Homo sapiens: one gene and its partner. The protein of the gene in region 2 purifies or fractionates together with the protein of the main gene of each other region. This does not show direct contact. Each region holds a gene or a part of one and is shown on either strand. Other genes may lie near its edges.

Region 1 (4,987 bases), on a different chromosome or scaffold from region 2:
TCTTAGGGATGAGGAAATGGGGTACCTTTGGCCTCTGAATCCAGGGATGGGGTCCCAGCCTCTCGCTGCTCTCCAGAGTCCACAGACACACTCCGGTCCCTCTTCACCTTGCCCTTGAGCGAGCTGAAAGGGGGCACCCCTGCCTGGGGGTTCTTCAGACTTGAGTTGCTAGGCGAGATCTGGTTGGCCTTGGCCCCATGGTTCCCCGCCCCCACGCCCTTCGAGCCCACGTTGCAGGTGGGTCCTTGGTTCACATTCTGGTGCTGAGATTGGGCCCCGCCATTCCCTGTCTTGCCATGATTGGTCAATTTATTTTCTGGGTGCATTGGCTTGGCTGGGGCAGGGGGGCAATGACCGCGGGGGGACAGCGGCGGGCTCCCTGGAGCTTCTCTCCTCCTGGGGTGGGGTAACCTGGGAGGAGGTGGGAGAAATGTGAAAAGTTAACCTTGCTAGGGGCTAGGCATGCCTGCAACTTAATTACCCCATCCTGCCTCCCCTAACAATGGGGGAGGGTGGGGGGAAGGGGTGGTATCTCAAGACCACCACCAGCTATTCTCTACCTCCCTCCATGGCTTCCTCAGACAAGGGCTGAAGCCCTCATCCACCTTGGGGAGTGGAGATGGGGAAACCCTCCACCCCCTAGCCTCCACAATTTGAATGGAAACCAGGGCCTAGAGTTGGCAGAATTCACCCACCTCAGCCCCAAAACACCCATCAGCCTGCAAGCTTCTGTGGCAACCCTGTCCTCTGTATCAGACTTAAGCATCCTCTCTTCTAAGATCTGCTGTCTTCAGACTCCTTCCAAGGTCTCAAACCTCAACTCCCATATGTCCCAACACCAGCAGAGAAGGGCCACAGGACCTGGGGTCACTGCACATGCCCGGGTCTCATTCCCCAGGGACAGTGGGAAAACGCACACCAGGGAGTGCTACCCACTGGTCCAGACAGCTGGAGGGGAAGGCCTGAGGAGGGGGGCTTGGCAGGCCAGGCCGGCAGGCAGAAGCAGGAGGAAAGGGGGAGGGGAGCGGTGTGTCAAGCAGATGGGGAGTGTAGCTTGAAGCCAAGGATTCCTGCAGCCTAGGCTGCGGGCCCTTTAAGCTCCAGCCCGCTCCCCCCGCCGCCTCCCCCTCCCCGGAGACCTATTAATAGCCGCTGGAAAGATCACATCACGGGAGAGGATATTTATCCCCCCTCATTCCACACCAGCTCAGATTTATTTCAGCTCTGCTGTCCTGCTGCTGCCGCCTGGCCCTGTCTGCCGGCTTCTCCGGGGAGGGGGGAGGGAGGCAGGCACCGCCCCCTACTCCAGCTCCCACCTCCAGCTAGACTGAGGCCAGAGGCGGCCTTCGGACCCCACAGTAGGGTGGGAGGGGGTCTGCTCAAACCATTTTAAGGAGGGAAGAACTAGAAGGGACCAGAAGCCGCAAGCATAGCTGGCTGCCAGTCCCCTCTGCCCCCCACCCAGGCCCAGGCACTAAGGCTGGCTGCGCCTCCTGCCTCGGGCCAGGCCTTCCCATGCTAACCCCCCTTTAGCCCACTGGTGGCCTGGGAGCCAGGTGCCCAGGGCGGCTCCTCTCCTGGCCAGCACAGCTTGGGCCCCATCACCACTGGGCCCTTCCCTTCCCGCACTCCACACACACACATCCCACCCGCCACGACACCCACACACCTTGTCTTGTTAGCCAGGATCCTCATGGCTCCCACACACAGTGGGGCTACGGCCCCTGTGCGTGCCCAGGGCCCAGCCAGGTACTCGGTACTGGAGCACGGACTGCAGCAACAAGCCCCAAAGAGAAAACTCGTGACTTGGGGAGGGGGTGTCAGAGGGGGAGGGGAGAAGGGAGGACCCAACAGCCCTGGGACTAGGGAGCTGGATAGGGTGGGGTGGCACTGGAAAAAGAGGATTACGAGATGGGGTCTCGATCCTGGAGGCCAGCCCTGTCCCCATCCCTCCCGCACCTTGCCCTCAGGGGGCTTGCAGTCTCCAGCAAGCCTCCGCCCCGACGGGCGGCAGAGACAGAATTCACTAAAAGGCTAGGTAGCAAAGGTGCCGTGTGGGGCGGCTGTGAGGTCTCCCCTGGCCCCCTGAGGGATTCCTGCTCCCAGACGCGCCCCTCACCCAGGGTGGGGTACCCCTCGTGCCCCACCCCCAGAGCGCTCCAGCCGTGGAGGGGGCCCGGGGTTGGGGCCACGCCCCGCCCCGTCCCCAGCTCGAGGCCTAGCCCGTGCCCATCCCAGCAGGCCCGGGCGGGCAGCGAGAGGCCTGGCGGGGCCCCGGGGCTGCAGCTGGGCTCTTCTGGAGACCAGTAACGCTGGCTCGGATTCCTCCCCGACCGCAAGAATGCAGGAGCCTCCCCTCCCCCCGCCCTGCACCCCCACCCCGCCCCCTTCGGCAGAGCCCGGGCGGAGAGGCAGAGCGAGCGAGCGACAGCCAGCGAGGCAGCGAGCGGGAGGCGGACAGGACTGCAGCGTGCTTCTCCAGGCCCCGCGCGCGGACAGACACACGGACAAGTCCCGCCAGGGGCTGGGCGCGCGCCAGCCGGCAAGAGCTTGGCGAGCCCCGGGTGCTGCCAGCAGAGGCTCAGAGACCCACAGACACCCGAACTCTGACTCACACACACTCACAGCTCACACGTGGACAGGGAGACAAGACACGCACGGAGCCCAGGAAGCTAGAGGCGCGCCGAGGCCAGGGAAGCGCCGCCGGAGCGGGAGGCGCGGAGACAGCCTGGGGCACGCGCAGACACCGGGGCTGCCCGAGGGCTGAGTGGGAGCGCCGGACCCATTGAACAGATGAAAAGACTGAGGCCGGCCACAAGAGAGCCGAAGAAAGTTGAGCCTGGTAGTCACAAAGAAACACGCACAGGGCCATAGATACAGCAACAGACTTACACAAACACAGAGGCCTCACCCAACCGCCCCCAGCCCTGGCTCCCCCCTCGCCTCCCCTACCCGCCCTCCAGCAGCCCTCCAGCAGCCGATCCCGGTCAAAGGGGAGGAGTCTTGGGCCCAGGAGCTTCGTCCCGGTGACAGGCCCGGCCAGACACCGGTGCACACTCCTGATGCTCCCTGCGGGGCTGCTGGAGGCTGGGCGGGGACCTGGGGGTGAGGGGGCCCCACCTGCCACCCTGCGGGAGTCTAACCCCAACTTAACCCTAGGGCACATTGGCCTTCGCCACTCCAGCCGTGTCTCTGGGGAGGAAGGCTCCTGGGGGAAGGTTCCAAAGTCCAGGACCTGCCTGGGAAGCAGCCCGCCACCCCCAGCTTCTCCATCACAACCAGGGAAGAGCAGAGGCAGAGGCTGGAGTCACTGAGATACCAGGGCTCTGAGCAGGCTCCTGGCTGGCATGCATCTCAGGCTCTCCCTTCACCAGCTCGCTGATTCTCAAAAGGATCGACCCCATTTCAACGAGGAAACTGAGGTCTGGGAAAAGGAAGTGGCGTGACCTTGAGTCACATATCCAGTATGTGGCAGTGTGGGGACGGACCCTCATTCCAGACACTGCAGTGACCCCACCTCCCCACGCCAGCCATGACTGCTCCTCTGAGCCTGCATCAGATAGTTGGGCTTCCCACATTCCAGCCACAGTGCCCAGGTCCCCCATAAGGGGGGAGGGGCAGGGCAAGGGCCACTCACTACCTATGTTCACAGCCTCAAAAATTGAGAACCTGTAAGAATTTGGGAAGGGGCTATTAGAAAATCAGTCCTCTCCAGTGGCCGTTCAGGCCTAGGCTCCTCCCCAGAAGACTCTTCCAGTCACCCTCCCCTCCGGGACTCCACCCCCTCTCTCCCACCCCGCCGCAGGGCGAGCTGAGTCAAGCGTGGATGAGTCAGGACTTTCCCATCTCACACCTCCCCCCTTTGCCCCTCAAGAGTCTGCCCCAGCTCCCGAAGACCCCTCCTCCTCCACACACTCACAGTCTCCGAAGACACCTGGAAGGCCTGGTGATGGGAAGCCAAGAGGGCTGATCCCAGCCCAATGCAATTTTAAAGCACCCAGTGAAGGGGGCTTGCTAGTACCAGGCCAGGGGCCCTTGAGGTACGAGAAAGCAAAGGGATGGGGCTCTGGGAACACGTCACCGTGCCTCCCTCTTAGGGGGTTAGGTGGGGAGGGGTAGCAAGCTCACAAACAGGGAGCAGGTGCGAGTCACCTGAGTGGAAGGCCAGGCGCATACCAGGAGAATGAATCGGAGGAGCGGAAGAGGCGGCTTGACAAAGGGCCTGAGATATCCATCCGCTCCCCCACCCCGAGTGACGCGAGGGTAGGAGCTAGCAGCCTAAGGGTTGCTAAGGGTTAAAGTGGACTTGATCCTAGCTGGGGGAGGGAGCTGAGGAAGGCTCAGATGCCCAGAGCCTCCAGGTATGACACACCGGCTCTGCTCCACACACAACTACCACAGGTAGGGCAGGCGTTCACACATCCAGTGGCAACCTGCCTGCTCCTAGCTGCCCCCACGTTGGGAGCCTCTGCTTGGCTCACCAGCTGGCCCAGCAGTGTCACTGCCTAGCTCAAAACCACCCCAAAGAGGCAGTGAGGAAATGTTTTGGAGGGTTCATGCTCCTGAGCTGCCAGGGCCCCCTGTGATGACGTGAAAGCCCAGGACCCTGCTGGGGACAACAGGGCGAACGAGATCCTTGGCCTCTGGCTCAGGGAGATACAGCGCCCGAGACGACAGGGTCCCAAATCCCCTTTCTCCTGGGTGTCAGGACCCCTCAGTCCTCAGAAGCTCTCTCCACCACTCAGGTCACTTCCTCTTCCTGAGGTGGTGACTCAGCGGGCAGGGAGGTCAAGGATTCGTAGCCCAGCAGGAAATCTGCTCAAGGACCAAGGTGCTGCTCTGGGACCCTCGATGTGGGGACTTCCAGGCTTAGGGGGCCTTCCCATGGCCCTGGTTCCTAGTAGCTCTCCACACTTCCCCCGACTCTGTGCCAAAGGAGACCATGCAAATCAGCCATTTTTGCTTGGGAGGTTTTCCCTGGGAGTTT
Region 2 (5,702 bases):
TGGTGGGGTCCCTCAAACGTCTCCTTTTAATGCTGGTATCTTCACCATGCGTCTTGCTTCTATCAGTTTAGGAACTTATTAAGAAAATACTTGTTTACAACAATGGTGCAGAATGAAAAGAGGAAAATGTTGTCTTCACCATTAAGGTGAAATTGTCTATTACTAAAGGTTTCCCCCAAGCCGCATGCAAGCTTTTCTACTTGGAAGTGCTATCATCTGCAATAATTCTTTGTAATAGCTTATTGGTTTAGGGAGTTAAAATACCACACTGTGGGTGGGAGGTGGGGGCTGGTTTGAAGGAGGATGGATAGTGAGGGTGCTTTGTGGATCTCAAATGTAAGTCATCAGGCTTCTGGTGGCTTCTGGTGTTTAATTCCATCTTATAAAAGTGGCATGATGGAATATGACTAGGTAAAACTCTATTTTCTGGCATTGTGGTGGTATCTTTTTTTTTTTTTTTTTTTACTAGGGTCAACATGTTTATCTCTATGGGAAACACACACAAATACTAGGAAGATTTGCTTCGTATTGAGATTAACAGCATCAGCTTTGCAAAAGCAGCCTGACAAAAGGCTCCATACATCTAATACCAGAGACTAGAAACAGACCAAAAAAAAAAAAAAAAAAAAACACACACCACACAACTGGTAAACTTATCAACCTAGGTCTATCCAACTTTCGCTTTCATACACGCGCTCTAAAACAACTTATAATAAAAATGGAAGGGAAGACAGATCCAATTTGAAATCCTCCTTGAGAAAAAACAAATCAAAACTAGTTCCTGGGGAAGAAAGCCTCAGCTAGGTCAGGAGGAAACTTACGCATCTTTGATTCCCTTTCCGCTTTGGAGAGGCATTACCCGTTCAAGCCCAGCCAATGCGGCCGGCCAGGATTTACAGCTCTTATCAAGGGTTAGATTTTGCGAAAGATATAAAGAAAGGAGTTTCCTAACACACCGGGTCTTCTCACAGCAACAAGACACCGAAATTAAGCCTTCTATGGTTTGTGTCTGTAGGACTTTTTAGATAAAACTGGCAGCCCCATTAGATAAGAAATGGCTTTTTAGAAGCTTTGGGGGAAGCGCGGGGGTTCTTCGTGGCCTTCCTGTGACTGTCTTTGGGAGACCGTAACAGATGATGGGAACATGTAAGAATGATTGAAGAAGGTTACCGGCGAGTTGCACCTAACAGTCTTCTCTCTCCAAGTAGTTTCTCGAGAGAAAATTATATATTAACGCCTGGGGACGTGAAATAGGTCTTTCACTGTTCTGTAATAAATCCCTCCCTACTCGCGCCCTTAGACTAATGCATTTTTAAAAAATCTCCACAAAGTCATGGAGACTTGTCCTTATAATTACCAAAATACCACAGCTAGTTGCACAAGTTTGCTTAAAAACAAAGGGCAGGAGACCAGCAGTGAGAAGAATTGAACAGTATATAAAAATCTTACAAACTTTAGACTACTGAAAGATCATTTCGCTCTTTGGCTTCGGGTTAGTGAGCTTCAATTCTAGAGTTAAACTGAGAAGCAGACCTCGCGGGTCTGAAAGACAAAAAGTCAGTCCGCGGAGTCAACTTCGGTTTACCGGTGCGTTCCAACCTGATTGTCCCAACAGCAAGAAGCGCCCCTTTCCTCCCACCCAACGTTTTTAGATATCTGAGGTTGGGGGAGACGGAGTAATGGTGTAGCAGTCAGGAAACAGTTCCTCTGGGTTTAATCATCCCATTCCCGATTCTTCTTCCCCTAGCGCGCCGAGCGCAGCCAGTTCTGGAGGAACTAGCCCTCCGGAGCAGCCAAGGCAGGCCAGGCCCCGGGGATGTGCACCACGGCGTGGGGACCAAACCAAGCTGAACGGCCTGCTCCAAGTTCCCCCCTTTTCCTAGAGCCCGGGAGGGACCTCGTCAACAGGTAGACCTACCCACCAGCCACTCGCCACCGGCGGCAGAAAGTGAGCCCCGCGCGCAACGCGGCCAGCCGGACTGCGGGGACCCCAGGAGCGCAGGGCGGAGGAGCAGCGCCACAGGAGGCGAGGGCGCAGGCGGCGCGGCCGGGAAGGAACGCGGGAGGGGACAGAAGGAAGAGGAAGAGGAGGAGAGGGAGGCCAGAGCCAGAACAGCCCGGCAGCCCGAGCTTCGGGGGAGAACGGCCTGAGCCCCGAGCAAGTTGCCTCGGGAGCCCTAATCCTCTCCCGCTGGCTCGCCGAGCGGTCAGTGGCGCTCAGCGGCGGCGAGGCTGAAATATGATAATCAGAACAGCTGCGCCGCGCGCCCTGCAGCCAATGGGCGCGGCGCTCGCCTGACGTCCCCGCGCGCTGCGTCAGACCAATGGCGATGGAGCTGAGTTGGAGCAGAGAAGTTTGAGTAAGAGATAAGGAAGAGAGGTGCCCGAGCCGCGCCGAGTCTGCCGCCGCCGCAGCGCCTCCGCTCCGCCAACTCCGCCGGCTTAAATTGGACTCCTAGATCCGCGAGGGCGCGGCGCAGCCGAGCAGCGGCTCTTTCAGCATTGGCAACCCCAGGGGCCAATATTTCCCACTTAGCCACAGCTCCAGCATCCTCTCTGTGGGCTGTTCACCAACTGTACAACCACCATTTCACTGTGGACATTACTCCCTCTTACAGATATGGGAGACATGGGAGATCCACCAAAAAGTAAGAGGCTATTTTACCTTGTGGGGCTCGGTGTGCTGTTCTTGTGCGGGGTTCTCTCTCAGGCACAGGCTGAGGTGCCAAGGGCTCTTTGGAGTTGGAGTCATTGCCTGGAGAAAGAGAAAAGGTGGCTTTTTCTTGTTGCCGCCACGCCTGCATGCTTACTGTCGGTTCTTATCTTCGGGAAACTGATTGTACCTTGTGTGTGAATTCGCCTGTGTGCCCTCCAAAGCTCTAGCTTTCTGGTGCTAAGCGGTGATTTCCTCCTGGGGAATCCTGAGCTCTCCGAGAAGGTTATTATGTTGCAAAGGTCTGCCTGCACAGTCAATGCCCAGAGATGTGAATTAGCATTAGACTTGCAAAAGAGAACGAGTGACAACTGTATTTATGCCTGCTCTTGCTAACAATATCCAGTCCTGTGTGCTATTTAAGAGCGCGCTTCACGGAAAATATAGACATCCCTGCGTTCACTTAACGCTTCTAGTCAAAACCTTTTCTTTGACTTGACTTATCCATAATCTTTCCCAATGATTATAGCAAAGAGGAAGGGGGGGGGGAGAAATACAAAATGAGCGGGTTTGATTGCGTGCTAGGCGTACAAATGTAGACTATTCCAATCTGCATTTTACATATATTCCACCTCCTTTTAAAAATGAGTCAAGGTTTTGATGGCACATTTCAATTACCATCCCAAAGTGCAATGCTCTAAAAAAAAAAAAAAAGAAAGAAAGAAAGAAAGAAAAAAACCTCCCAGAGTACGCCCTATAAGAGAACGACACTAAAAGTGTGTTTATCTCTGTAGGAAGTAAACGGTTAGTCAATCATGTATTTATTTTCATTTCAGAAAAACGTCTGATTTCCCTATGTGTTGGTTGCGGCAATCAGATTCACGATCAGTATATTCTGAGGGTTTCTCCGGATTTGGAATGGCATGCGGCATGTTTGAAATGTGCGGAGTGTAATCAGTATTTGGACGAGAGCTGTACATGCTTTGTTAGGGATGGGAAAACCTACTGTAAAAGAGATTATATCAGGTATGGCATTTACACTTCTTTCTTAATTTTGTGGGATTTCCCTGAATCTCCCCACTCTTTATGTATTATTTGGTGTGGCTTTGTCTTTTTGTGAAGTTTGCCTCAGTGTAGTCATACAAGCCAAAGTTACCCTGTACATGTGTTAAAAAAATCAAGCTATGCTGTTCATTTCATTCTTTAGTTGAGAAAAACAAAAACCCTTAACAGTGGTATTCATAATTCCGGGGTATTGAGGCTTGTTTAATTACTCTTGGAGTTTATGATGCACAAATTATTTTCCTCTTTCACCCTCCCCCTTACAAAACAAAATTTTAAAAAGATGGAGAAGTTTGGATTTTTAGCTTTAAAATAGGGTTGATTTTTGTTGTATAGTGCAGTGTTCTGTTTGTTTTAGTCCTTTTTAAAATTAGTAGCTTACAAATTCTTTGGTGGCATCAATGCAATAGGTGAAATAAAAGTTTGACCGAAGCATGTTTAGAGATGTACTTTGAAAGAGCGAGTACAGGTATTGCTCCTTTTATTTTTGGGGTAAGACCTCCTTCTGAGAAAAATTTAAAACCAACCTAAATATTCCTTGGAAAAAACACCGGAAACTTAATCTTTTTAAATATTAACCCTTTGGTGACATCTAACTGTCTCTTCTTTCTTATCTTATCTGAGCTGATGAATTAGAGCAGATCAAATTGCCCATCATCTGTCTACGAACAATTGGTATATTTAGATAATTGAACAGCTTCCTTTCTCACATTAAAATCTGGTAACTGATAAAATGAGCGAATTGTCCAAATTGACAAGACTGAAACAACATAGGAACTTTCTGAGTTTGGTTTTGTTGTTTTGGAGAGTTTTTGTTTTTTTTTTCCTCCAATTTATTCTGCAACACGTTTTGCTAATCTCAAGTTTCCTCTGACTTGTGTGTATGTATCAGAAACTTTGTTTTCTGCCTTAGAAAGCCAGTAGTCTCTAAAGAAAATTGTATTCATTTTATTAACAAACAGAAGAGACATCAGCATCATTATTATGTTAAATAATAGCAAAATATCACTTTTTAAATGTCCGGTGGCTATTAACAAGTAATTAATTAGCTTTTGTTAGGCAAATGGTTTCTGGAGCTTGAGAACTTTTATTAAAGTTTAGTTAAGATTTAATATACAGTCACAGTTTGCTCCTGCTCACTTAGTATCCAGCATTTTTTTCTTCTTTTTTAAAAATCATGACACAGAGAGTATAATCTTGGTAGATAAAATTAACCTGGTTGGGGGAGGTTAATACTTCGGAGAGGGAGTGAAAGGAAGTAAGGGAAGTCGGGGTACAGGAAGGGGGAGGGATTTTCTAAATTGTTTGGTCACCGCCAAAGTCAAGTCTTCACCCTATGAAATGGAAGATCTCACATTGAGTAGGCGGAGGGAGGAAAAACTTTTGAGTCCACCTTCTAACCTCTGACAAATGAGCGTTTTCATTGTTTACTAGATTGGTGTGTAAACGCAAGATTCTAGAGAAGGAGAGCCCACTTCAGGAGTATCTTTACTGCTATGGAAATAGTATTTTGCTCAATTGCACACAGGCTTGCATGTGCCTAATTCTGGATACACACATGTGTAGAAGGAACTAATCATTTTTACCTTCTCTTCACTCTCTCTCAACTCTGTGTGTGTGTGTGTGTGTGTGTGTGTGTGTGTGTGTAATCTTGTAGTTGTAAAAGCAGAACAGACTGGACAGTTAGATTTCCACATCTCTCCTTGGAGAAGCAGGATGCCTCCTCCTGTTATGTGGATCTTTTCCTCTCTCTTCCATTCTTTCTGTTCGTAGGAATGCCCCAGCTTCTGTTATTCCTGAAAGATGGAGAAGGGGCCAGGGAAGTGCAGCCTAGATGGAACCTATAAAGATTGTCCCTTGGTAAGGAAAGGCCAGGAGTGAGAAAGACCTTAGAAGCGGGTCTTTGCATTTTTTTCATTCTGGTCATGGTTTTCAAGAAAATTGAAATGAGGTAGATGATTCAGCAACTTGAAAAAGATTGAGGGAA

What was found.
Region 1: the proteins of ISL1 (region 2) and BCL9L purify together in Homo sapiens (affinity purification with mass spectrometry, with the first as the bait; one large-scale study listed by BioGRID). This does not show direct contact.

What each region holds. Positions count from the first base shown.
Region 1 is NC_000011.10:118,908,245-118,913,231, forward strand, and holds part of BCL9L (B-cell CLL/lymphoma 9-like protein), read right to left. Parts: intron 2,544-4,987; exon of another isoform or gene 2,464-2,543; intron 2,299-2,463; exon of another isoform or gene 1,772-2,298; coding exon of another isoform or gene 1,696-1,771; coding exon 1,670-1,695; intron 1,646-1,669; exon of another isoform or gene 767-1,645; coding exon of another isoform or gene 696-766; intron 412-695; coding exon 26-411; intron 1-25. UniProt on the Homo sapiens protein: Transcriptional regulator that acts as an activator. Promotes beta-catenin transcriptional activity. Plays a role in tumorigenesis. Enhances the neoplastic transforming activity of CTNNB1.
Region 2 is NC_000005.10:51,381,052-51,386,753, forward strand, and holds the start of ISL1 (insulin gene enhancer protein ISL-1), read left to right. Parts: upstream 1-2,396; 5' UTR 2,397-2,620; coding exon 2,621-2,648; intron 2,649-3,489; coding exon 3,490-3,679; intron 3,680-5,137; exon of another isoform or gene 5,138-5,549; coding exon of another isoform or gene 5,550-5,575; intron 5,576-5,702. UniProt on the Homo sapiens protein: DNA-binding transcriptional activator. Recognizes and binds to the consensus octamer binding site 5'-ATAATTAA-3' in promoter of target genes. Plays a fundamental role in the gene regulatory network essential for retinal ganglion cell (RGC) differentiation.